Regions from separate parts of the Homo sapiens genome. Here regions 1, 2, 4, 5 and 6 are each linked to region 3. Evidence: fine-mapped expression QTL. A gene starts in region 3. Each other region holds a variant in brackets. All regions are shown on one strand. Distances are between the middles of the regions.

What was found. PIP is the estimated chance that this variant, and not a neighbour inherited with it, causes the effect.
Region 1: its variant is fine-mapped to the expression of SCARF1 in whole blood (TOPMed, PIP above 0.99).
Region 2: its variant is fine-mapped to the expression of SCARF1 in whole blood (TOPMed, PIP above 0.99).
Region 4: its variant is fine-mapped to the expression of SCARF1 in whole blood (TOPMed, PIP 0.93).
Region 5: its variant is fine-mapped to the expression of SCARF1 in skeletal muscle (GTEx, PIP 0.93).
Region 6: its variant is fine-mapped to the expression of SCARF1 in cerebellum (GTEx, PIP above 0.99). The same link has a PIP of 0.9 or more in cerebellar hemisphere.

The regions. Positions count from the first base shown.
Region 1 is chr17:1,601,192-1,605,276 of GRCh38, forward strand. All of the region lies in intron 5 of SLC43A2 (solute carrier family 43 member 2), which reads right to left. It also overlaps the pseudogene RN7SL105P. Among named protein-coding and RNA genes, the nearest start is that of SLC43A2, 26 kb to the right of the region's middle. The variant C/T (reference allele first, on the strand shown) is at 2,390.
Region 2 is chr17:1,684,406-1,688,490 of GRCh38, forward strand. It overlaps PRPF8 (pre-mRNA processing factor 8), which reads right to left and starts at 462. Exons shown (of 43, transcript NM_006445.4): 1 at 375-462; 2 at 67-177. The coding sequence starts at 166. The variant A/G (reference allele first, on the strand shown) is at 1,672.
Region 3 is chr17:1,643,496-1,647,580 of GRCh38, forward strand. It overlaps SCARF1 (scavenger receptor class F member 1), which reads right to left and starts at 2,237. Exons shown (of 11, transcript NM_003693.4): 1 at 2,102-2,237; 2 at 1,683-1,744; 3 at 1,339-1,440; 4 at 1-472. The coding sequence starts at 2,202. RILP (Rab interacting lysosomal protein) reads right to left here. Exons shown (of 8, transcript NM_031430.3): 7 at 3,411-3,494; 8 at 2,655-3,124. The coding sequence ends at 2,947.
Region 4 is chr17:1,664,801-1,668,885 of GRCh38, forward strand. All of the region lies in intron 24 of PRPF8 (pre-mRNA processing factor 8), which reads right to left. Among named protein-coding and RNA genes, the nearest start is that of RILP, 17 kb to the left of the region's middle. The variant A/G (reference allele first, on the strand shown) is at 2,152.
Region 5 is chr17:2,533,515-2,537,599 of GRCh38, forward strand. No RefSeq gene overlaps it. Among named protein-coding and RNA genes, the nearest start is that of METTL16, 24 kb to the left of the region's middle. The variant G/A (reference allele first, on the strand shown) is at 1,879.
Region 6 is chr17:1,588,750-1,592,834 of GRCh38, forward strand. SLC43A2 (solute carrier family 43 member 2) reads right to left here. Exons shown (of 14, transcript NM_152346.3): 7 at 2,817-2,950; 8 at 2,520-2,722; 9 at 2,053-2,199. Among named protein-coding and RNA genes, the nearest start is that of PITPNA, 28 kb to the left of the region's middle. RefSeq lists enhancers at 1,254-1,799, 1,800-2,345 and a silencer at 3,113-3,278. The variant T/G (reference allele first, on the strand shown) is at 1,929.

The sequences.
Region 1 (4,085 bases), 42 kb before region 3:
GAGCTGGCACTAGACTGCTACCAAAGGGGTCTGTTCCACACGCTAATTTCAGGCTTGCGGACCATCAGCAAACTGCAATGAAACCTGTGGGCATGAATCTTCCAGAGTGGTAGAATCTCATTCCCATATGCCCGCCAAGTTTCCAGGTGTAGCTGGGAAAACCCAAATGTTCCCTGGATCCCGAGATGGCTAATAAGCACTCAGGCCTGCTACACCACCGAACAGAGCCCCACAGCCAGAGAGGCACACGGCCTGCTTCACACAGCCGACAACCCCGCTGGAAACAACCAGTGCTGGGAGCCAAGGCCAAACTGATGCAAAGGCGCTACTGAGCCAGAGCCCTTCTGCACCGAGACTACCCCAGGCATGCACCGCCCTCCCAAAGGTCCAAAACGATGCAAAGGCGCTACTGAGCCAGAGTCGTGCACTGAGACTACCCCAGGCATGCACCGCCCTCCCGAAGGTCCAAACCAATGCAAAGGCGCTACTGAGCCAGAGTCCTGCATTGAGACTACCCCAGACATGTACTGCCCTCCCGAAGGTCCAAACCAATGCAAAGGTGCTATTGAGCCAGAGTCCTGCACTGAGACTACCCCAGGCGTGTACCACCCTCCGGAAGGTCCAAACCGATGCAAAGCCACTATTGAGCCAGAGTCCTTCTGCACCGCCCTCCCGAAGGTCCAAACTGATGCAAAGGTGCTACTGAGCCAGAGTCCTTCTGCACCGAGACTACCCCAGGCATGCACTGCCTTCCCGAAGGTCCCAACCAATGCAAAGGCACTATTGAGCCAGAGTCCTGCACTGAGACTACCCCAGACGTGTACCGCCCTCCCGAAGGTCCAAACCAATGCAAAGGCGCTATTGAGCCAGAGTCCTGCACTGTGACTACCCCAGGTGTGCGCCGCCCTCCTGAAGGTGCGTGTGGGTCGACAAGGGTGCACAAGCGGCAGGGGGCTGCATAGCAAGGTCTCCTTCAGCTTTGTTTTAATTATTTTTATAGAGACAGGGTCTCACTCTATTGCCCAGGCTGGTCTTGAACTCCTGGATTCCAGCGATCCTTCCACCTTGGCTTCCCAAACTGCAATGATTACAGGCATGAGCCACTGCACCCGGCCAATCTTTGTATATTGATTTTGTGAAGGCTCTTTATGTATTAAAGACATTCATTCACAGGCCGGGCACGGTGGCTCACACCTGTAATCCCAGCACTTTCAGAGGCCGAGGCAAGCGGATCACCTGAGGTCAGGGGTTTGAGACCAGCCTGGCCAACATAGTGAAACCTCGTCTTTACTAAAAATACAAAAATTAGCCGGACATGGTGGCAGGCACCTGTAATCCTAGCTACTTGGGAAGCTGAGGCAGAAAAATCGCTTGAACCCCAGAGGCAGAGGTTGCAATGAGCCGAGATTGTGCCACTGCACTCCAGCCTGGGCGACAGAGCGAGACTCTTGTCTCAAAAATTAATAAAAATAAAATAAAATGAAGACATTCACAGTTCTATATACTATGAATAAATTTTCCTAGTTTGTCATTTAACTTCTTAATTCATGGTGTTTTGTTTTTTCAGTTTTTTTTTTTTTTTTTGAGATGGAGTTTCGCTCTTATTGCCCAGGCTGGAGTGCAATGGTGCAATCTCGGCTCACCGCAACCTCCACCTCCCGGGTTCATGCGATTCTCCTGCCTCAGCCTCCCAAGTAGCTGGGATTACAGGCACCCGCCACCACACCCGGCTAATTTTTGTATTTTTAGTAGAGACAGGGTTTCACCATGTTGGCCAGGCTGGTCTCGAACTCCTGACCTCAGGTGATCCACCCGCCTCAGCCTCCCAAAGTGCTGGGATTACAGGCGTGAGCCACTGCGCCCGGCCGAGGGTTTTAAAGATCATAAATAGGGTAGGTATTAACAATAGTTACTATTATGATATGTGTTATGACTTCATAACAGGGAAAATCTTCTGGTCAAGCTGCTCCTGGGCATAGCCAACGAGGGAAGTGTCCTCTGGCAGGAACCACAGCTCTGGGAGGAAGAAAAGGAAGCCGACTACAGGATAAAACACAAATTAGTATTCCCCTTTAAATAAATAATTAGTGTCCACAGAGATGGCCTTTCTTCTCCTGTCCTTGTTATTCTGTTGTGACCACACATTGACTGCTGTCAGGATGTTTATGCTTTGGGTTTCACTGGTCAAGGTCATCCTTCATGTTCTCTTCAGAGAGGTTTCATTTGACACAAATGCTAGGTACTCCCTAAAAGCTGAAACACACTTTTGACCACCTATTTAAAAACTTTTATTGGTCAAAAAACACCATGAGGCCGGGCGCGGTGGCTCACACCTGTAATCCCAGCACTTTGGGAGGCCGAGGCAGGGGATCACCTGAGGTCAGGAGTT[C/T]GAGACCAGCCTGGCCAATACGGTGAAACCCCATCTCTACTAAAAATACAAAAAATTAGCCAGGCGTGGTGGCGTGCACCTGTAATCCCAGCTACTCGGCAGGCTGAGGCAGGAGAATCGCTTGAACCCAGGAGGCAGAGGTGGCAGTGAGTTGAGATCGCGCCATTGCACTCCAGTCTGGGCAACAAGAGTGAAACTCTGCCTCAAAAAACAAAACAAAACAAAACAAAACAAAAACTTAAAGATTAGAAAAGTCAAGGGACTCCCCCAAGCTAGTAATGGTCAGATTGGGGATTCAAGCCAGGCCAAGCCTCTGTGTGTAGGCCCCAGGCCACGCTGCCTCTCTGGAGTCTCCTGTGGCTCCGGCCAATACACACTTCAGTTTGGATCCCACGGCTTTTACATGTGCCTTATTAAGATCCAATCTGCGCCCTTCAACTAGAGGTTTATTTTTCATTCATTTACTTATTTATTTTTTGAGACAGAGCCTCACTCTGTCGCCAAGGCTACAGTGCAGCAGCACAATCTCAGCTCACTTCAAGCTCCACCTCCCTGGTTCAAGCGATTCTCCTGCCTCAGCCTCCCGAGTAGCTGGGATTACAGGCATGTGCCACTACGCCACGATGCCCAGCTAATTTTTTTTTTGTATTTTGAGTAGAGATGGAGTTTCGCCATGTTGGCCAGGCTGGTCTCGAACTCCTGACTTCAGGTGATCCATCCGCCTCGGCCTCCCAAAGTGCTGGGATGACAGGCGTGAGCCACCGCGCCCGGTCATTTTTTTAAATTTGTTTTTGGAGATGAGGTCATGCTGTATTGCCCAGGCTGGAGCGCAGTGGCTATTCACAGGCATGATCCCTCTACTGATCAGCAGGACACTTTTGACCTGCTCTGTTTCTGACCTGGGCCGGTTCAGCCCTCCTTAGGCAACCTGGGGGTCCCTCACCCCCCGGAGGTCACCACACTGATGCTGAACTTAGTGTAGACATCTCATCAACACAGCACGCTATTGTGCAGAACTCCTGGGCTCAACTCATCTGCCCACCTCAGCCTCCTGAGCAGCTGAGACTACAGGGGGATACCACAATGCCCAGTCCCCAACTAGAGATGGCTTACATTCCTTCTGAAGCTCCTTTTAGACCCATCTGCCCCCTGCCCTCACCTCCTGCTGTTGCCTTCGGCTGACCTCCCCATGGTCCAGCGCCACAGCATCGGATGGGCTTGCATTTGCCTGTGGACTCCCGTAGGTCATCCTGACATCTGGGTCACTCCCCACATTCCCCCTCTCGCTCACTCCGTCCCCAGCTTCCCTGCCTCCACCGGTCTCAGCTGCGCATAATGGCTGTTCGAAGCCGCGGTGCCGGAGTGAGGGCTGAGCGCTGAGCAGAGCGCCCTAGCGCGGGCCTCGAGGGCTGGCGGAGGGGAAGGACCCCAGGAGGGGAAGGACCAGCTTTGCTGCCAAGCAGGAAGCCGGAGCTGTTTCCTGACTCACCACCACACTCACAGGTGGGAGTGCAAGCCCCTCTTCCCGCCCTCAGGTGCTTCCCACAGCCCCCTCGCCGCCTCTGCCTCCGTGCGGGTCAACCTGTCCTGCCAGCCCGGGCTGTTCACTCACTGCCTCCACGCAGCCTCAGTCACACAGGGAAGCCCGTGACTCTCTCTCTTTCAGCCCCCTGGCTGCAGCATAAACAGGCCGGAC
Region 2 (4,085 bases), 41 kb after region 3:
CCCGCCTGCGCGCGCGCACACCCGCCCCGCCTCCGGCCCGCGCGCCGCTCCACACTCTCGCCTCACCTTTCTCCTGCAGCTTCTCCTCCGACATGTAGTCCGGTAGCGGGGCTAGAGGGCCAGGCACCGGGTTACCCGGCCCTCGATAAGGAAACACTCCGGCCATATCCGGAGAATCTGGGGAGCGGCGGGATAGAAAAATTCACTAACCACAGGCCCGGGCCCACAAGAAGCGCAGCAGAAAGGCGTCCGGGGACCCCGGCCTGCAGTCCCGCCACACAGTGCATCCAGCCCCGCCCGGCCTAACCCCTTCGGTCACTCGGCCCGACCCGACCACGCCTCCCGCAGCCCGGCCTTAAACGCCTGCCACGCACCCCACAGGCCCTCACACAAGAGGCCGCTTTCCCCGCAGCGCAATGGCGGCCAGACTGCGTCCGCTCCGCGTTCCCAGCGCCGGGAAGTGCGCAACCCGAGTTCAGCAGTTGATCCAGTCGGCGCCGAGGTGCTCAGATGGATTAGTGAGACGACCAATTAGAGTTGCACACTGCGCCGAGGAGGCGGGCCCATAGGCGGAAAGGCTTTGAACGCAAGGGGGTGTGGTCGGGGTGAAGCCCCGCCTCCTCCATTTCCGAGGCTGTTTCTGGGGCCTCTGACAGACCTCAGCGTGTGATGGGCTCCCGGCGTCGCACTGTGAGAGAGCGAAGTCTAAAGGGTTTGAATAAATTTGCCAAGATTGCGCATTGTACGATGTCTGTTGTCATCAATGTGTACATGCAATGCAGTACTAGCTCCTGGACAGTCATTTGTTCATGCATTCATTCATTTAACCATCACTGTCTACCGAGGACGAGGGATAAAGCAGGAAAAAAGACAACCAGTAGAGTTCACAGGGGAGCAGAAAGGCAGGCAAGAATTAAGACCTTGGCCGGGCGCGGTGGCTCACGCCTGGAATCGCAGCACTTTGGGAGGCCGAGGCAGGCGGATCACTTAAAGCCAGAAGTTCGAGGCCAGCCTGGCCAACATGGTGAAACCCCGTCTCTACTAAAAATACAAACATTAGCCGGGCGTGGTGGCGGGCGCCTGTAGTCCCAGCTACTCGGGAGGCTGAGGCAGGAGAATCGCTTGACCCGGGAGGGGGAGGTTGCAGTGAGCCAAGATCGCGCCACTGCACTCCAGCCTGGGTGACAGAGCGAGACTCTGTCTCGGGGGAAAAAAAAAAGTCTGAAATTCTGTGGAGGGTGCAGAGGAATTGTAACCCATACAGCCCCTGAATCTAGTTGAGAATTTACAAATCAAAGTGAAATAATTAGAAAAAAATTCAAAGGATGTCAATGTGCTTTCAGAACGGTAAAAATTTAAAAAATATTCCTTTTGTTTTTTTGAGACAGGGTCTCACTCTGTTGCCCAGACTGGAGTGCAATGGCGCGATCTCAATTCATCACAACCTCCACCTCCCAGGATCAAGCAATTCTCCTGCCTCAGTCTCCAGAGTAGCTGGATTACAGGCACGCGCCACTACTGCCGGCTAAGTTTTGGATTTTTAGTAGAGACAGGGTTTCACTATGTTGGCCAGGCTGGTCTCAAACTCCTGACCTTACGAAATCCTCCTGCCTCGGCCCTCCCAAAGTGCTGGGATTACAGGCGTGAGCCCCCATGCCCGGCCTGAAATCT[A/G]TTTTTTAATGCTGGGTGTTCTAAAGGTCCCTACAGTCAAAAAAGACAGAGGAGAATTGTTAAAGATTTGATGGAGATGGATGGATGTGAGGATTTCATAAAGGTAAATGGAGAGGAAGGAAAAAGGTAATCCCAAGTGGTAGAACTACTAGAAAGAGTTAAGAAAGAAGCCGGGCACCGTGACTCATACCTGTAATCCTAGCACGTTGGGAGGCAGCGGCGAGAGGATTGGTTAAACTCATGAGTTTAAGACTAGCCTGGGCAACATACTGAGACCCTCATCTCTACAAATAATAAAAATATTAACCAGGCATAGTGGTACATGCCTGTAGTCCCAGCTACTCGGGAGGCTGAGGTGGGAGGATCATGATGGCACCACTGCACTCCAGCCTGGGTGACAGAGCGAGGCTGGTTTCATAGAAAAAAAGTGGGGGTTTTGGTTTGTTTTTTGTTTTTTGAGGCAGAGTCTCACTCTGTTGCCAGGCTGGAGTGCAGTGTCACAATCTCGGCTCACTGCAACCTCTGCCTCCAGGATTCAAGCGATTCTCCTGCCTCAGCCTCCTGAGTAGCTGGGGTTACAGGCATGTGCCACCACACCCGGCTAATTTTGTATTTTTCGTAGAGATGGCGTTTCTCCATGTTTGTCAGGCTGGTCTCGAACTACTGAGCTCAAGTAATCTGCCTACCTCAGCCTCGCAAATTGCTGGGATTTCAGGCGTGAGCCACCGTGCCAGGCCAAAAAAGGTTTAGATATAGAAACTAACATGGCATGCTCTGAAAATAGGCACCATATCAATCTGGCTGTGCTAGAAAGTCCAACATCATCATTATCATCTTCATCATCATCATCGTCATGGTAGTGAAGTCCTTTCACCTGTGTAAGGTTCACTACGTGCCAGACATTGCTCTAAGCCCTGGTGAAATCCTACTATGGTCTGTAGTTTCATTAAGAGTATTGTGGCCGGGCGCGGTGGTTCACGCCTGTAATCCCAGCACTTTGGGAGGCCGAGGCTGGCGGATCACAAGGTCAGGAGATCGAGACCATCCTGGCTAACACGGTGAAACCCTGTCTCTACTAAAAATACAAAAAAATTAGCCGGGCATGGTGGCACGCACCTGTGCTTCGAGCTACTTGAGAGGCTAAGGAAGGAGAATCGCTTGAACCCAGGAGGTAGAGGTTGTAGTGAGCTGAGATAGTCACTGCACTCCAGCCTGGGCAAAAGAGCAAGACTCCGTCTCAAAAAAGAAAAAAAGAGTATTGTACCAATGTCAATTTCCTGGTTTGATTGTCGCTCTATGGTTGTATAAGAAGTTCTGGGGGGTGGCCGGGCGCGGTGGTTCACGCCTGTAATCCCAGCACTTTGGGAGGCTGAGGAGGGTGGATCACGAGGTCAGGAGATCGAGACCATCCTGGCTAACACGGTGAAACCCCATCTCTACTAAAAATACAAAAAAATTAGCCGGGCATGGTGGCAGGCGCCTGTAGTCCCAGCTACTCGGGAGGCTGAGGCAGGAGAATGGTGTGAACCCGGTAGGCAGAGGTTGCAGTAAGCCAAGATCGGGCCACTGCACTCCAGCCTGGGTGACAGAGCAAGACTCCGTCTCCAAAAAAAAAAAAAAAAACAAGTTCTGGGGGGTGGGCAGGGGGCAGGTGTGGTGGCTCACGCCTGTAATCCCAGCACTTTGGGAGGCTGAGGCAGGTGGATCATTTGAGGTCAGGAATTCGAGACCAGCCTAGCCAACATGGTGAAAACCTGTCTCTACTAAAATACAAAAATTAGTGGGGCATGGTGGCACATGCCTGTAATCCTAGTTACTTGGGAGGCTGAGGCATAAGAATCGCTTGCACCCGGAGGTGGAGGTTGTAGTGAGCTGAGATCATGCTATTGCACTCCAGCTTGGGTGACCGAGTGAGACTCTCGCTCAAAAATAAAATAAAATAAAAAGTTCTCAAGCTACGTGAAGGGTACACAAGAACTCTCTGTACTATTTTCAAAACAGCATTATTGAGATAAAAGTTGCACTCCATGGCCACCATGCTGGCTCATGCCTGTAATCCCAGCACATTGGGAAGTCGAGGCGGGCGGATCACCTGAGGTCAGGAGTTCGAGACCAGACGAAGCAACATGGTGAAACTCTGTCTCTACTAAAAATACAAAAATTGGCGGGGCATGGTGGTGCATGCCTGTAATCCCAGCTACTTGGGAGGCTGAGATGTAAGAATCGCTTGCATCTGGAGGCAGAGGTTGCAGTGAGCTGAGATCGCGCCATTGCACTCCAGCCTGGGCAACAAGAGCGAAACTCTGCCTCAAAAAAAAAAAAAAAAAAATCGCAATCCATAAAGTTCGCTTGTTTTCATGTGTATAATTCAATGATTGTTAATGAATTTTAGTTTTAATGATTCAAAATTAGTA
Region 3 (4,085 bases):
GCTCCGCGGAAGCCGGGCGGGCAGGTGCACTCGCCGGAGGCGGCGCTGCAGCGGCCCCGCACACACTCGCACTGCTGCTGGCATTCGGGACCCCACCAGCCCGGCCGGCAGGCGCAGCGGCCGGAGTCCTGCTCGCACGGGGAGCCGTGGCAGTTGCAGCGGAAGCTGCAGCGGCGCCCCCACCAGCCCGGCTTGCACACGCAGGCGCCCGTGGCCTGCTCGCAGCGCGCCGCCGCGGTGTTGCACTGGCACGGGCGGCGGCACGTGGACGACCACCAGCCGGGTTCGCAGTGGCACACGCCGGTCGCGGGGTCGCAGCGCCCGTGGGGGCCGCAGGCGCACGGGAACTCGCAGCGGGCTCCCCAGCGGTCGGCCTGGCACTGGCACGCGCCCGTGGCTGGCTCGCACTGGCCGTGCGGGTGGCAGGGGCAGCTCTCACGGCAGTCGGGGCCCCAGTACTGGCCCGGGCAGCCTGCGGGGGTGGGGACGGGAGGGGTCAGCGGGCTCAGGGCCGCGCGCAGACCCTTACCCTGCGTCCCCTTCCTCAAGGAAAAGGGGCGCTGGGCCCATCCTCCAAGAGCCGGGGACAGACCCTCAGAACATCCGGCAGCCTGTCCTGGGCAACACTCACTTCCTGCTCCGCTCTGACCTACAGAAAACCCTTAGCCATTAGTGGGAGGCTCAGCCTGCCACTTCACATTCCAGAACACACTCAGAGATCCTGAGTGGGCAGGGGACTTGCCCAGAGCGTGGCACCGAGGTTGGTGGGCCTTCCTCCATGCCTGCTCCTCCCTGCCGAGATGGATCTCTGCTGGGCTGGAGGAGAGCTGGCTTTCTCCTGATCTCAGGCCTGGATACTGCCCGCCAGGGTGTCGGGAGAAGCCACCTTTCCCCTAGTGATTCCTTGATTCCTGATGCCCACCCTCTGGCTCTCCTGCTTCCCAACCCCTTTCCCTTCCCTCTCTTTCTGCCAGAGAGGGCAGAGAGCCCAGCCAGGGGCCCCCTTCCATCCACTGCCCATGTATAAGGTATATGTGGGAAAGGCAAGTAATACACTCATTTTACAATGAAGGGGAATCACAGGTTTTCTGAGAAGTGGAAGAGGAAGATGCTCAGGTGGGCAGTGCTTTGTGGATGTGGGTAAAAACCCGGTGACTCAGGTCATCTCCCGGGAGTGTGTGTCACTTCCTGTCTCTGGACCGCAATTCCTCAGTGAAGCTGGGGGGGATTCTGGCCCTGCTGTCCTGAGGCTGCATGGCTACCTGCCTCGCCTGCTCCCACACCACTGCCCCCGTACCCAGCTCTGCCCAGCAACTTCATCTGGCCCTTGAGACTCACGGGAGCTGCAGTGGGCCCCAAAGAATCCAGGCTTGCATCGACAGAGGCCCGGCTTCACACACACCTCGTCTTTCTGGCAGGCGTCCGGCCCCTCACAGATGGCTGAAAGACACCCCACCCAGGTTGGAAAGACGGGAGCAGGACCAGGGGACACCCCTGCCCTCTCACTGGCTCCAGGGGCCATGCCTCCTCAAGAGGTGCCCCTTCAGGCCTGGGGGTGCGTCACAGGAGAAACCCTGACTCCTGGTATCAGGAGGGGCAGGCCCCATGGGGTAGGAAGGAAGGGTTGTCACTGGGCTACGGCCTCCCTTCTCCTTGGCTGAGGGTCTGTCCTGGCTACTCACGGATGGTGCATTCTTGATCCTTCTGCCTCCAGCCTGCGCAGCACTGCAGCTCAGCAGAGGGGCTGTGGGGCAAAAAGGGGTCAGCCGGACATGGTGGGGGGTGCAGCCTGGCCCTGAGGAAGGTGGATCACTGTCTCTGGCTGCAGTGGGGGAGGCTGCCTTAGCCCCCTGGGGAGGCCTAATGGATCTTTACAGCTAGGGTCCCCAGCCCCTCCCCTCTCCTTCCCTGACCCTTCCACCATCTGCCCTGGCTGGCCACTACCTGCCAGACCGCCATCAGCAGTCCCTTCCTTTCAGCCTAAGCCCCCTTCCTAGTCTCCTCCTTCCCCTAACGGCCTCAACACCGGTTCAGCCACCCGCATCAGACTCCCACGAGACCCACCTGCTGGCCACACGCATCAGACTCCCACGAGACCCACCTGCTGGCCACACAGACGTGCTGCCCTTTGGGGTCCAGCTCGGACCCCTGAGTCCCCCGAGTCCAGAGCAGCAGCAGCGGGAGCAGCAGCCCCAGCCCCATGGCAGGCAGCTCGGTGGGAGCGCTCGGGTTCGTCTGGCCCCCACAGCTCCCAACCCCCTCCCTGCTTCCTCTCAGGGCTTTTCCTGAGGAAACCAGGCCGGAGGGGCGGGCTGCCACGAGGCACCTCCCTGAGAGGGAGGGGGTGGCTGGAAAGACTGACACTCAAAAAAAGAAAGGGAAAGAAAGGCAATGGCAGGGCTGACTGGCCTGGGCCTGGAAGGGCCAGAAGAATGAAGTTGCAGGTCCCTGGGTGCCGGGGCCAGGGAAGGGGGTGGACTGAGGCTGGGAGCCACGGCTTTCCATCAGGCCACACTCCCAAAGCAAGGCCTGAGCTGCAAGAAGCCACCCCACCCAGTGACTGAGCAAGGAGACCAGCGAGGACCCCTCAGCCTGCCTCTGCTCCTGGCAGGGTTGGGAGGTGGCACAGACATGGACAGACAGGCGAGGAACAGTTTCTGTGTATTACGGGCAGTTCTTTATTACATGAGCTCAGGCCGTCTGCACAAAGCCCTGGGAGCTAGGCAGTCAGCTCTCATTTCATGGATGGGGAAACTGAGACTCAGAGAGGCACTCTTATATCTGGCCCCAGAGGCTCGGTACAGAGACGTAGAGAGGGAGGCGGGCTGAGACCCCGTCCTGCCCTGATGCAGGCCAGGATTGGGGCAGACCCCTGGCGAGGGCTGTGAAGGCGGGAGCCCTGTCCTCATTTGAGGCCACACATCCTTCCACAGCCAGACCCCTAAGTCAGGCCTCTGGGGCGGCTGAGGCCCCCAGACAAAGGTGTTCGTGGAGGGCAGAACAGGGCGGATCAGGAGCTGGAGACTGTGGTTGGGCCTCCTCTTCTCCCCCTAGCTTGCTGGGTGCAGGGCTGCTGGTCTCATCCTCAGAGGATTCAGCTTTACCCCGATACCATAGGCCAAAGCTGGAGAGAGACAGCCAGAGGCACTTTGAGCCAGGAAGCCAGAGAGGTCAAGGATATGGGTGAGGGCAGGGGATGGTGAGAAAAGGGGAGAGGGGGAAGAAAGGGCAGCCTGAGGGAGTGTGAAGGTGATGGGGGCCAGGGCCAGAGAAGCAGGAGGGGACGGTGTGCTTAGAGCCAAGCACAGCAGGGTGACGGGCAGAGAAGCGGGAAAGGGGATCCTGAGAAGGACCAGCCAGGGCCCTTCCTCCCTCCCCACACTCTTGCCTTTCCCCTTTCCCCAACATACAAACTCTGTATTTTGGACTCCGGGGGTGGGGGATGGTCTCCCTTGTCATCGGAGAGCAGGATCCATGGGCCAGCCTCATCCTCACTGAGACAGAGGAGAGAGGAGAAGTGAGGGCCATTGATCAAGGCCCTGAGGGACAACAGGAATCCAGCAGGGGGGATGGAGGGACTGCAGGGCCCCCGGGGCTGGAGAGAAGGCAACCCTGGGGAGATGCAGGATGTCGAGCCTTTAATTTTTAATTTTTTTTTTTTTGAGACAGGGTCTCACTCTGTCGCCCAGGCTGGAGTGCAGTGGTGCGATCTCAGCTCACTGCAACCTCCGCCTCCCAAGTTCAAGCGATTCTCCTGCCGCAGCCTCCTGAGTAGCTGGGATTATAGGCACATGCCACCATGCCCGGCTAATTTTTGTATTTTTAGTAGAGACGGAGTTTCACCATGTTGGCCACGCTGGTCTCGAACTCCTGACCTCAGGTGATCTACCCACCTTAGCCTCTCAAAGTGCTGGGATTACAGGCGTGAGCCACCGCGCCCTGCCAAGGGTTTATTTTATAGCTTGACACACAGCAGGCCCTGACACAGCCGCGGCTACAGTTTCACCCCCGTAAGAATAAACAGACCCAGCCAAGACAGGAACTTGAAGAATGAATGTGGAGAGGCAGTGTTGTCAGGCAGAATG
Region 4 (4,085 bases), 21 kb after region 3:
ACTCATAAGGGAAATTAGAATATACTTTTAACTAAATAAAAATGAAAACACAACATATTAAAATGTGAGGAATGGGGCCGGGCACGATGGCTCATATCTGTAAGCCCAGCACTTTGGGAAGCCAAGGCGGGTGAATCACGAGGTCACGAGTTCAAGACCAGCCTGGCCAACATGGTAAAAACCTGTCTCTACTAAAAATACAAAAAAAAATTAGCTGGGTGTGGTGGCGGGCACCTGTAATCCCAGCTACTTGGGAGGCTGAGGCAGGAGAATCGCTTGAACAGGGTAGGCGGAGGTTGCAGTGAGCCGAGATCGTGCCACTGCACTCTAGCCCGGGCGAAAATGTGAGACTCTGCCTCAAAAAAAAAAAAAAAAAAAAAGGGAGGAATGCAGCTAAAGCAATGCTGAGAGGAAAATTTACAGAAGTGAATAATACTATTAGAAAAAGAGAAAGGTTGGCCAGGCACGGTGGCTCACCCCTGTAATCCCAGCACTTTGGGAGGCTGAGGTGGGTGGATCACGAGGTCAGGAGATCAAGACCATCCCAGCTAACACGGTGAAACCCGTCTCTACTACAAATACAAAAAATTAGCTGAGCATGGTGGCAGGCGACTATAGTCCCAGCTACTCAGGAGGCTGAGGCAGGAGAATGACACAAACCCAGGAGGCGGAAGTTGCAGTGAGCCAAGATTGCGCCACTGCACTCCAGCCTGGGCGACAGAGCAAGACTCCGTCTCAAACAAAAAAAAACGAGAAAGGTCAGCTGGGCACGGTGGCTCACGCCTGTAATCCCAGCACTTTGGGAGGACGAGGCAGGTGGATCACGAGGTCAAGAGTTCAAGACCAGCCTGGCCAAGATGGTGAAACCCTGTCTCTACTAAAAACACACAAAAAAATTAGCCGGGTGCGGTGGCAGGCATCTGTAATCCTAGCTACTCGGGAGACTGAGGCAGGAGAATCGCTTGAACTCAGAGGGCGGAGGTTGCAGTGAGCTGAGATCGCGCCACTGCACTCCAGCCTGGGTGAGAGAGTGAGACTCCATCTCAAAAAAAAAAAAAAAGAAAAAGAGAAAGGTCCAGGCCAGGTGCGGTGGCTCACACCTATAATCCCAACACTTTGGGAGGCCGAGGCAAGCTGATCAGGTGGTGGTCAGGAGATCGAGACCATCCTCGCAAACACGGTGAAACCGCGTCGTAGTAAAAATACAAAAAAAAATATTAGCCGGGTGTGGTGGTGGGCACCTGTAGTCCCAGCTACTTGGGAGCTGAAGCAGGAGAATGGCGTGAACCCGGGAGACGGAGCTTGCAGTGAGCAGAGATCGCGCCACTGCACTCCAACCTGAGTGACAGGGCGAGACTCTGTCTCAAAAAAAAAAAAAGAGAAAGGTCCAAAATTGATAATCTAACCTTTTACCTTAACAAACTAGCAAAGGGATGGCAATGATAAGAGAAGAAATCAATGCAACAAGGCCAGGCGTGGTGGCTCACACCTACAATCCCAGCACTTTGGGAGCCCAGGGGGGTGGATTACCTGAGCTCAGGAATTCAAGACCAGCCTGGGCAACATGGCGAAACTGTCTGTATCCAAAATACAAAGAAAAATCAGCCAGGCATGGTGGCATGTGCCTGTGGTCCCAGCTACTTGGGAGGCTAAGGTGGGAGGGTCTCCTGAGCCTGGGAGGCAGAGGTTACAGTGAGCTGAGACTGCGACACTGCACACCAACCTGGGTCATAGAGACCCCATCTCAAAAAAAAAAAAAATCAATGCAACAAAAAAGAGAAAAACGATAAAAATTAATGAAACCAAAGCTGTTTCTTTGAAAAGCTGAATAAAACAAGATAGCAAACCACAAAATACCAAATGATATAGTCAAGACTTTAAGGCAAAAAATGTCTTCTGAACAATTATTGAGGTGAAAGAGTGCGTTGGCTGGAGTTACTATAGTAATCTGCCTTGAGCAAATGGTATTCAGACAAGCAAGGAGAAAAGACTGCAGGTGAGATAACAGCTCAAACCCTACTATGAAAGCTAGACTGAGCATCTCGCATGTCCACAGGATGAGACAACCAGGCAGATCTACAGAAAGGAGGGGGGCCGGGTGCGGTGGCTCATGCCTGTAATCCCAGCACTTTGGGAGGCCGAGGCGGTTGG[A/G]TCATGAGGTCAGGAGTTTGAGACCAGCCTGACCAACATGGTGAAACCCTGTCTCTACTAAAAATACAAAAATTAGCCGGGCATGGTGGCAGGCACCTGTAATCCCAGCTACTCAGGAGGCTGAGGCAGGAGAATTACTTAAACCCGGGAGGCGGGGGTCGCAGTGAGCTGAAATTGTGCCACTGCACTCCAGCCTGGGCAATAGAGCAAGACTCCCTCTCAAAAAAAAAAAGGAGGGCCAGGGGCCAGGATAGGCTAGATACTGGGGTAAAGGCAAGTGGATGATTCCCATTAGGTTTAGTAAATTCTTGGACTGCACTTGGAATTGCTGATGTGTGTAATGGAACACAGTATTTCTGTTGTAGTTAACAGTGCTCTATCCCTGAAGGGGAGGAGGCATAAATTCCTGAGGAGCCCAGTGTTCCTTTACTAAATAGCAGAAATTCCTGGGGGATAAGGGGAGGCAAGAAGGAAAATAATATTTACTCAGGTCTACGTGTACTAGGTACCATGGTAAGAAATTTATATATGTTATACCTCTTATGTCTTCATAAAAAACAAGTTATAGAACTTGCCCATGACATAGCTTTTTTTTTTTTTTTTTTTTTTTGAGATGGAGTCTCACTTTGTCACCCAGGCTGGAGTGCAGTGGCGCAATCTCAGCTCACCGCAACCTCCACCTCCGGGGCTCAAGTGGTTCTCCTGCTTCAGTCTCCAGAGTAGCTGGGACTACAGACATGTGCCACCACGCCTGGCTAATTTTTGTATTTTTAGTAGAGATGGGGTTTCACCATATTGGCCAGGCTGGTCCTGAACTCCTGACCTCGTGATCCACCTACCTCGGCCTCCCAAAGTGCTGGGATTACAGGCGTGAGCCACCGCACCCGGCCTATTTATTTATTTTTAAATATAAACAGGATCTTGCTATGTTGCCTAAGCTGGTCTCAAATTCCTGGGCTCAAGCAGTCCTCCCACCTCGGCTTCCAAAAGTGCTGGGATTGCAGGCATAAGCCACCATGCCCAGCTTTATCATGCAATTTACCAAGTAATATGGCTTACTAAATACCCCGTTTCATTTAATTCTCACAAAAGCCGTCTGACCTAGGTCCTATCAGTATCCCTATTTTACAGATGAGGGAATTGAGGCCCAGCATGGGCAATATTCCCAAGATCCCAACTAGTAATATGACAAAGATATGATGTGAACCCCATCTGACTCCAGAGCCTGTGCTTCTAACCACTAGAGTCAACTGCATCCTTACCCTCTCAGACACTCCTCCACTCCTCAGCCTCTAACTTCTGATATCCAGTTCCCTGATGCCTACAATTCTTTCCCAGGCCAATGGCCTCTTCTGCTCTCTCTCCTCTCCCCTCTTCCAGTATCTCAATGGGGTCTAGCATTCTTTTTTTTTTTTTTTTTTTTTTTTTGAGACAGAGTCTTGCTCTGTCACCCAGGCTGGAGTGCAGTGTCGCGATCTCGGTTCACTGCAAGCTCTGCCTCCCAGGTTCCTGCCATTCTCCTGCATCAGCCCCCCTGAGTAGCTGGGACCACAGGCGCCCGCCACGACATCCAGCTAATTTTTTGTATTTTTAGTAGAGACGGGGTTTCACCGCGTTAGCCAGGATGGTCTCAATCTCCTGAACTCGTGATCCACCCGCCTCGGCCTCCCAAAGTGCTGGGATTACAGGTATGAGCCACCGCGGCCGGCTGGGTCCCGCACTCTTGATTCCCTTGCATTCAATGCCTTACCACTCTACAACTGTCTTCTAACAGAGCTCTATTCCTTAATCACCAGTGTAATCTATCCACCTTCTGCATCCCTGTCACTGAGTAGCTGGGTGATTCTGGGAAAAACAAATGCTCAGAGTTGTCTTCCCAAAACCCAGCTGAGCTCCCAACACACCTTCCAATCCCTCTCAGTTTCTTCAGCAAT
Region 5 (4,085 bases), 890 kb after region 3:
AGGACGCTGAGGCACGAGAATTGCTCGAGCCTGAGAGTTGGAGGTTGAAGTGAGCTGAGATTGTACCACTTCACTCCAGCCTGGGCGACAGATAGAGACTCCATCTCAAAACAAACAAACAAACTGCCCTGCTACTTTTAACCGCTTACATTCCCACCAAGAGTACACGAGAGTTCCAATGTTTCCACATTCTCTCCAACACTTAATTTTCTGTGTGTGTTTTTTTTTTTTTTTCCTGTAGTGGCCATCCTAATGGGAATGAGGTTTTGATTTACATTTCCTTAACGATTAGTGATGTTGAGCATCTTTTCATGTGTTTCTTGGCCATTTGTATACCTTCATTTGTCTCCCTCTGTCGCCCAGGCTGGAGTGCAGTGGCGTGATCTTGGCTCACTGCAAGTTCCGCCTCCCGGGTTCATGCCATTCTCCTGCCTCAGCCTCCGGAGTTGGGACTACAGGCTCCCACCACCACGCCCGGCTAATTTTTTGTATTTTTAGTAGAGATGGGGTTTTACCGTGTTAGCCAGGATGGTCTCGATCTCCTGACCCCGCGATCCGCCCGCCTCGGCCTCCCAAAGCGCTGGGATTACAGGCGTGAGCCACCGCACCCGGCCTTGCCGATTTTTAAATTATTATTATTAATATTTCTGTTTTTGAGTGAATGATGTGCCTTTCTGCATCCTTATATTTAAGGTGTATATTATAAGAAGCGGTGGCTCACTGCACTCCAGCCTGGGCGACAGAGCGAGACTCTGTCTCAAAAAAAAGAAAAGGATTTGTGGATATATCTGAAAACAACTGCATCTCGTATTTTGAAAAGAGTAATTGCCAACCCCCTGGCATAGCTGGTTAAGAAAAAGACAAAAGGTTTTTTTTTTTGTTTGTTTTTTTTTTTTGAGACGGAGTCTCATTCTGTCACTCAGGCTAGAGTGCAGTGGCACAATCTCTGCTCACTGCAACCTCTGCCTCCTGGGTTCAAGCAATTCTCCTGCCTCAGCTTCCCAAATAGTTGGGATTACAGGTGTGTACCACCACACCTGGCTAACTTTTGTATTTTTTTAGTAGAGACGGGGTTTCACTATGTTGGCCAGGCTGGTCTCAAACTCCTGATCTCAAGCGATCCACCCACCTCAGCCTCCCAAATTGCTGGGATTACAGGCGTAAGCCACCGTGCCCGGCCAAGAGAAAGAAAAAAGGTTTAAATAACCTTTATCATGAATGAAAAGAGGTACTAAATAAATATCAGCTGCACTTAAAAATTTTTTTCCAGCCAGGCATGCTCACGCCTGTAATCCCAGCACTCTGGGAGGCCGAGGTGGGCAGATCACTTGAGCTCAGGAGTTCGAGACCAGGCTGGACAACATGGTGAAACCCCTATCTCTATTTTTTTTAATCAAAGAAAAAATTCCTATATATTTACAACTGACAGTAAGAGAGTTTTTAATGTTTTGACCAAAATATTTAAAGGTCACAGAGCAATCATACATTTTCTCATTGATTATTAAGATTGCTTTGCGGCCGGGCGTGGTGGCTTATGCCTGTAATCTCAGCACTTTGGGAGGCCGAGGCAGGCGGTCAGGAGATGGAGACCATCCTGGCTAACACGGTGAAACCCCGTCTCTACTAAAAATACAAAAAATTAGCCGGGCGTGGGGGCGGCAACCTGTAGTCCCACTAATCAGGAGGCAGAGGCAGGAGAATCGCTTGAACCTGGGAGGTGGAGGTTAAAGTGAGCCGAGATGGCGCCACTGCATTCCAGCCTGGGTGACAGAGTGGGACTCCGTCTCAAAAAACAAAAACAAAAACAAAAAAAAAGGCCGGGCGTGGTGTAATCGTAGCACTTTGAGAGGCTGAGGTAGATGGATCACAAGGTCAGGA[G/A]TTCAAGATCAGCCTGGCCAATATAGTGAAACCCCATCTCTACTAAAAATACAAAAATTAACTGGGCGTGGTAGCGCACTCCTGTAATCCCAGCTACTTGGAAGGCTGAGGCAGAAGAATCACTTGAACCCAGGAGGCAGAGGTTGCAGTGAGCCGAGATTGTGCCACTGCACTCCAGCATGGGCAACAGAGCGAGACTCTGTATCCAAAAAAAAAAAAAAAAAAAAAAAAAGATTGCTCTGCATGGTTTCAGCTTGCACGGTCCTATCTGTGGTCCTGCATGGCCATGCAAAGTGAAGGCTGCTGGTTAAGCAGTTTCTACACCGTTGTTGTCTTCATATCTGATGCTGGAGTTTGAGGTCCCCGGGGCAGGCAGTTGGTAAAGTGGAGAATGAGCTGGAACTCACTAGCATAAACTGGAGCCCATGAGGGCAGGCTGGAGACCGCGTCAGTTCTTGTTGCTTCTAATGTTGGTGGTGTGGGCATCCAGGAGAAACCAGGGCTCTTTGCCCAGAGATATAAACACTGACACCTGGTCCAGGAGTAAGAGAAGCTGAAGGAAGATTCAGGAGAAGGTGAAGCAATTACAGGTGTAGCTGCTGCCTCTTGCCAATGAGTTGAGGCATCAGATAACCAGCACTGTCAGCTGCGGAACGGCTGCTGCTTCAATTCAGCCCTCCAGTCTCTCACAGGACTCTCTTGTGTAGTTTTCAATTGGGTTCAGGGGCGAAAAAAAAAAAAAAGAATCATTTGTGGCCCATGCTAACTGGAAATGAACAGGAAAGGGAACTCTGGGAAAGGGGATTCTGGGAAAGGGAATTCAGCCACCATAGTTACCGTATAGTTTAATGGCTGTGCATGGAGGGCTCGAAGTCAGACTTCTCAGATTTGATTTGTTTCCTTTATTTCAAGTCGTATGTCCAAGGGTAAGTTTCTTAGTCTTTCTGGGCCTCAGTTTGCTTGTCTGTAAAATGAAGATGTAATAGTAGCATTTAAGATTAGTTTGAGGTTTTTTAAAATTATTTTTATTTCCTTTTAATTTTTTGTTTTGTTTTTGTTTTTGTTGTTTTTGAGACGGAGTTTCACTCTTGTTGCCCAGGCTGGAGTGCAGGGGCTCAATCTTGGCTCACCGCAACTTCTGCCTCGCGGGTTCAAGTGATTCTCCTGCCTCAGCCTCCTGAGTAGCTGGGATTACAGGCACACGCCACCACGCCTGACTAATTTTGTATTTTTAGTAGAGATGGGGTTTGTCCATGTTGGTCAGGCTGGTCTTTAACTGCTGACCTCAGGTGATCCGCCCGCCTCGGCCTCCCAAATTGCTGGGATTATAGGCGTGAGCCACCACGACCGGCCCCTTTTAAATTTGTATTTATATAAAAACTTCTATGCTAGTTTGAGGTTTAAATGAGATAATACATATAAATTGTTAACATATTATTGGTGTATTATCAATAAGACTTGCCTTATTGGAAATGTTTAATAAACATCAGCCATGTCGGCCAGGCGCAGTGACTCACACCTGTAATGCCAGTACTTTGGGAGGCTGAGGCAGGAGGATTGCTTGAGTCCAGGAGTTTGGGACCAGCCTGGGCAACATAGGGAGACCCTGCTTCTACAAAAAAAAAATTTAAATTAGCAGGACGTGGTGGTGCACACCTGTAGTCCCAGCTACTCAGGAGGCTGAGGCAAGAGGATCACTTGAGTCCAGGAGGTTGAGGCTGCAGTGATCCAAGATTGTGCCGCTATGCTCCAGTCTGGGCAACTGAATGAGACCCTGTCTCAAAACAAAACAACAAACAAAAACAATCAAATAGACAAAAATATATCAGCCATGATTATTAGTAATTGTGTGATCTTTCTGGTCCTCAGTTTTTTTCAGCTGTAAGGTGGGGATAACTTCCTTGGCCTACTTCACAGGCATATATTGAGAATCAAATGAAATAAATAATTCAAATAAAATAGGAATAATTATATGAATAACATATCACCACTTCATGGTAGAGGTGGTGGTAAAAATGATGATAAACATAGTTCTTAGTTCCTTCCAGCCTCCATATTGGTATCTACTCCAGTGACTAAAGCCAGCTATTCCATGATTATTAATCAGAAAAGCAGTTATCCAAATGTAAGATGTTAATAGGGAAACTGAGTGCAGAGGATATGGAACTTTTTGTACTTACCATCTTTGCCATTTTTCTGTAAATATA
Region 6 (4,085 bases), 55 kb before region 3:
GGCTAGTTAGGGTTTCCCTGAATCCGCAACTCCTGTTTGATGGCGGGTCTCAAACGCTGGGAGGCAGCAGAGTCACCGGTCAGCGGCAAGGCCTGGAGTCTCCATTCGGAACCAGCACCCGGGAGCCTCTGCCGCGGGTGGTCGCGGGGCCGTACGCGGAGGCGATGGCTCTGGTGCTTTGAGCCGTTCCTCAGCAGCACGGCACACCCCCTCCTGCGGAGCCGCAAAGCTCACGAGTGTGCGGAAAGTGACCCGGACCCTGCAGCTGCCTCTCGGCCGGAGCTAGGGCTATGGGTGTTGGGTGTAACGGGTCACAGAAGGAGGAGGGGGAAAACCAGTGCCTCGTCTGCCACAGACCAACCTTCCTGGCCTGGCTTCCTCTACTTCTTGAAATTGACTTTTTGAACATACGAAACAGTTGGAAACATTCCTCCTGGGCAGCAAAAGATTTCTCAGACAGCTTGAGTAAAAGACGCTGACTCAGCAGCAGGGAGATGAGCCTTTCGAGGGCCAGGGACCAGCTCTCTCTGCACACTTTGGGGTTTCCGCCACTCCAGGGCTGAATGTTTATCAGGCTGGGTGTGGAGGTTTACGCCTGTAATCCCAGCACTTTGGGAGGCCAAGAGGGGAGGATCCCTTGAGCCCAGGAGTTCGACACCAACCTGGGCAACACAGCAAGACCCTATCTCTGCAAAGAATTTAAAAATTAGCTGGGTGTGGTGGCGCGCACCTGGGGAGCCCTAAGAGGTCAAGGCTGCAGCGTTCACATCACTGCACTCCAGCCTAAGCAACGCAGAAAGAGACCCTGCCTCAAAAAAACAAGAAAGAAAGAGACATGATAGATTAGGGTTCCCCAAAGTGTGTTCCACAGATATTTTTTTTTCTTTTGAGATGGAGTCGCACTCTGTCGCCCAGGCTGGAGTGCAGTGGCGCAATCTCGGCTCACTGCAACCTCCACCTCCTGGGTTCAAGCAATTCTCTGCTTCAGCCTTCCAAGTAGCAGGGATTACAGGGGCCCACCACCACGCCTGGCTAATTTTTTGTATTTTTAGTAGAGATGGGGGTTTCACAATCTTGGCCAGGCTGGTCTTGAACTCCTGACCTCATGATCCACCTGCCTCAGCCTCCAAAAGGGCTAGGATTACAGGCGTGAGCCACCGTGCCTGGCCTAGACTACCATTTTCACAGTAGAACTGGCTGTTATCTGGTTCCCTTTGCTATCTTTTCCTTTTGATAAAGCTGGATTTCTCATCCCCTAAAAACCTGATAACTGATTCTTCACAAGTCCTAGGGTATCTTCACCTTGATAAAAACAAGGAAACCATCGGAAAAAGTGGCACACCAGGGAGGCTGCCAATAAAAAGGATTTGGAGTGTTTGTCCCGCCTGGGGATGACTAAGGCTGACTCAGCTCAGGCCCCGGGGAAGTCCTGACTTTCTCTGTAGAATCAAAACCTCTAATCAGCTGAAGACCTGCCCTGTTTGGAAAAGTGGACTGTGGGTTATCAGCTGTGTTTGTTGGAGCTGACAAGCCTCAACTGTTCGCAAGCTCCGAGGAAGTCTCTGCCCTGCCCTGTTTCTCGGTGAGGGATGCAGATCCCAGTGTGGGCCAGTTGCCCCAGCGTCTCCAGCCCCGTCCTGACCTCGATGCCCAGGGTGTCCACGCACCCACCGTGCCACTTTCTGGGAGGACTTTGGGCTTGACCTGCTGTCTTTCAGCCATGCTCAGGTGGAGCGTTCTGTTCTGTTTTCATTTACAGACACACACGGCAACCCTCCCCCTCAGGCACTGGAAAACACACACCCCACACCCCACACCCAGGAGGCTATTTTGGTCCTTCCCTCCCTCCTGGACCAGGAAACCCTGATGGGGACACGAAGAAACAGTTGGGGCTGGCAGTGATGCAATAGCTCTGACGGGCAGACAGC[T/G]CCTGGGATGCGGCCTTTCCATGGCCCGGCTGGCCCGGCTCAGCTTAACACATTCTGGCCGGTGGCCAGTGGGCTGGGCTCAGGCCGGGGAGTGACAGCGACCGAGGCTGCCCGGGGCACCTACCTGTCTTCTGGTCGCCGCTGACCAGGAACTTGAGGATGTTGTTCATAGCCCCCATGTAGAAGATGAGCCGCAGCTGCGTGACGCACATGGTGACCAGGCTGAGCAGCAGGATGGGGCTGAACACGCTGTGCATGAAGGAGGGGGCCACTGCAGGGAGAGGGTGCGGGGCTCAGGGCCGGGGCACACTGTCCCCACCACCGGGGGGACACGCAGATCCCTCCACGCTGGAGGCCAGGAGGGGGCCCTCGGGACGGGCCTGGTGAGGGTAACGGGGTTGGCGCTGCGGTGGGGTCACCTCTTGGGTGAAATCAGGCAAATCCCTTTCCCTCCCCCAGGCCTTCCTGAGCGCCTCTGCAGAACAGGGCGGGCGGGGCCGCCTCCCCTTTTGGGGTGAGGTGGGAATGGGGTGAGCCGATACCCACAGAGCACTCCCTGCCCGTCGCCCGGCTGCGGTCTCAGGCGGGTACCTGCGGCATCCGGCTGGCACTTCACCTCCAGGTCGACGGTGGACAGGCACAGCTTGTGGCCCTCCTGCAGCGCCACCTGCTCCTTGGCACTCCTCATGGAGCTGCCCACACTCAGGCGCCGGCCCACCGTGGTCACCTGCTTGTAGAACTGCTTCCCTGTGATCTTGTGGTCAAAGCCCAGCCAGCTGAACTTGATCTTCACCCTGGGGCCCCGGGAGAGTGTCTGTGGGTGCTGCCCGGGACCCCGGCTGGGGGGCGGGGGCTGGGGGCAGGCGGGACGGGGGCACCTCTACTTACGAGTAGTCCATGTCCTCCGGCCCCGGGAAGGGCTCAAGGGGCCAGTTAAAGAAGCAGTTGAGGAAAACCAGCCCGGAGCAGCCGGCCCAGACCACGAGGACGACGATGAAGGAGACACCAGCATCATAGATGAGCTGACAGGCACCGCGGGGACGGGGTGGGGGGGGGAGGGGGCAGAGTTAGCCCGGGGAGGCCAGAGCCGCAGCAGGCAGGGGCGTCTGGCCACCCCTGCTGTCCCTGTGCTGAGCCGCGCAAAGAGGCACAGCCCTGCCAGCCTGGGCGTTGGGGCATCAGGCACCCGCCTTCCAGTCCTCCCACCGTGCCTGCCCTGCTGGTCATCTGGGCCTGGCGTGTGATTAGCCCCCCGACTCGGAGGCCTTCCTGACCGCCCCGCCATGACCACGGCACGTCTTGCAGGCTCATAGTGATCGGCCCAGCAGAGGGGACGGTGCTCCTGGTCCGTCGGCTTGTCTGGTATTAGCGGAGCTCCCTGAAGGCGGGAACCGGCCAGCCCCGTCCACTGATGCTTCCCCAGTGCCTCTGAGAGCTCACATGGCAGAGGCCAAAGAAATGCTCAAGGAAGCCAGGCATGGTGGCTCACGCCTGTAATCCCAGCACTTTGGGAGGCCAAAGTGGGCGGATCATGAGGTCAGGAGTTCCAGGCCAGCCTGACCAACATGGTGAAACCCCATCTCTACTAAAAATACAAAAATTAGCCGGGCATGGTGGCGGGCACCTGTAATCCTAGCTCCTTGGGAGGCTGAGGCAGGAGAATCACTTGAACCTGGGAGGTGGAGGTTGCAGTGAGCCGAGATCGTGCTGCTGCACTCCAACCTGGGCGACAGAGCAAGACCCTGTTCCCCCCCAAAAAAAGGAGGAGGAAGAACTTTCGGGATGCTCCCCAGTCCAGGGGCATGAGAATCTCTGCAAGTCCATAGGATGGCTGGCCCCAGAGTCCCAGCTCCCACCACTTCAATGCCCAGGTGGCCAGCCCACACCGTGTCCCCCTCTCCTCGCCAACAGCATTCCCACACACACCACCGAGGAAAGGGGCTTTTACTTAGTGTGAGGGTCAGAGGTGGGAGAAGCCCCTACGGGGCCCTGGCAGACCCACAGGGTCTGGGGAACTTGGGCTGATGGACTGTGAGGTGTTTGCTTCGTCCTGACCCTGTGTGACTTCCACAGGCTCAAAATCCTGCCTAGGAGGGAAACAGCTGAAACACTTGGCCAAGAGCAGTGCTTTGGCTGGCGGGGAGTAACGGTACAATA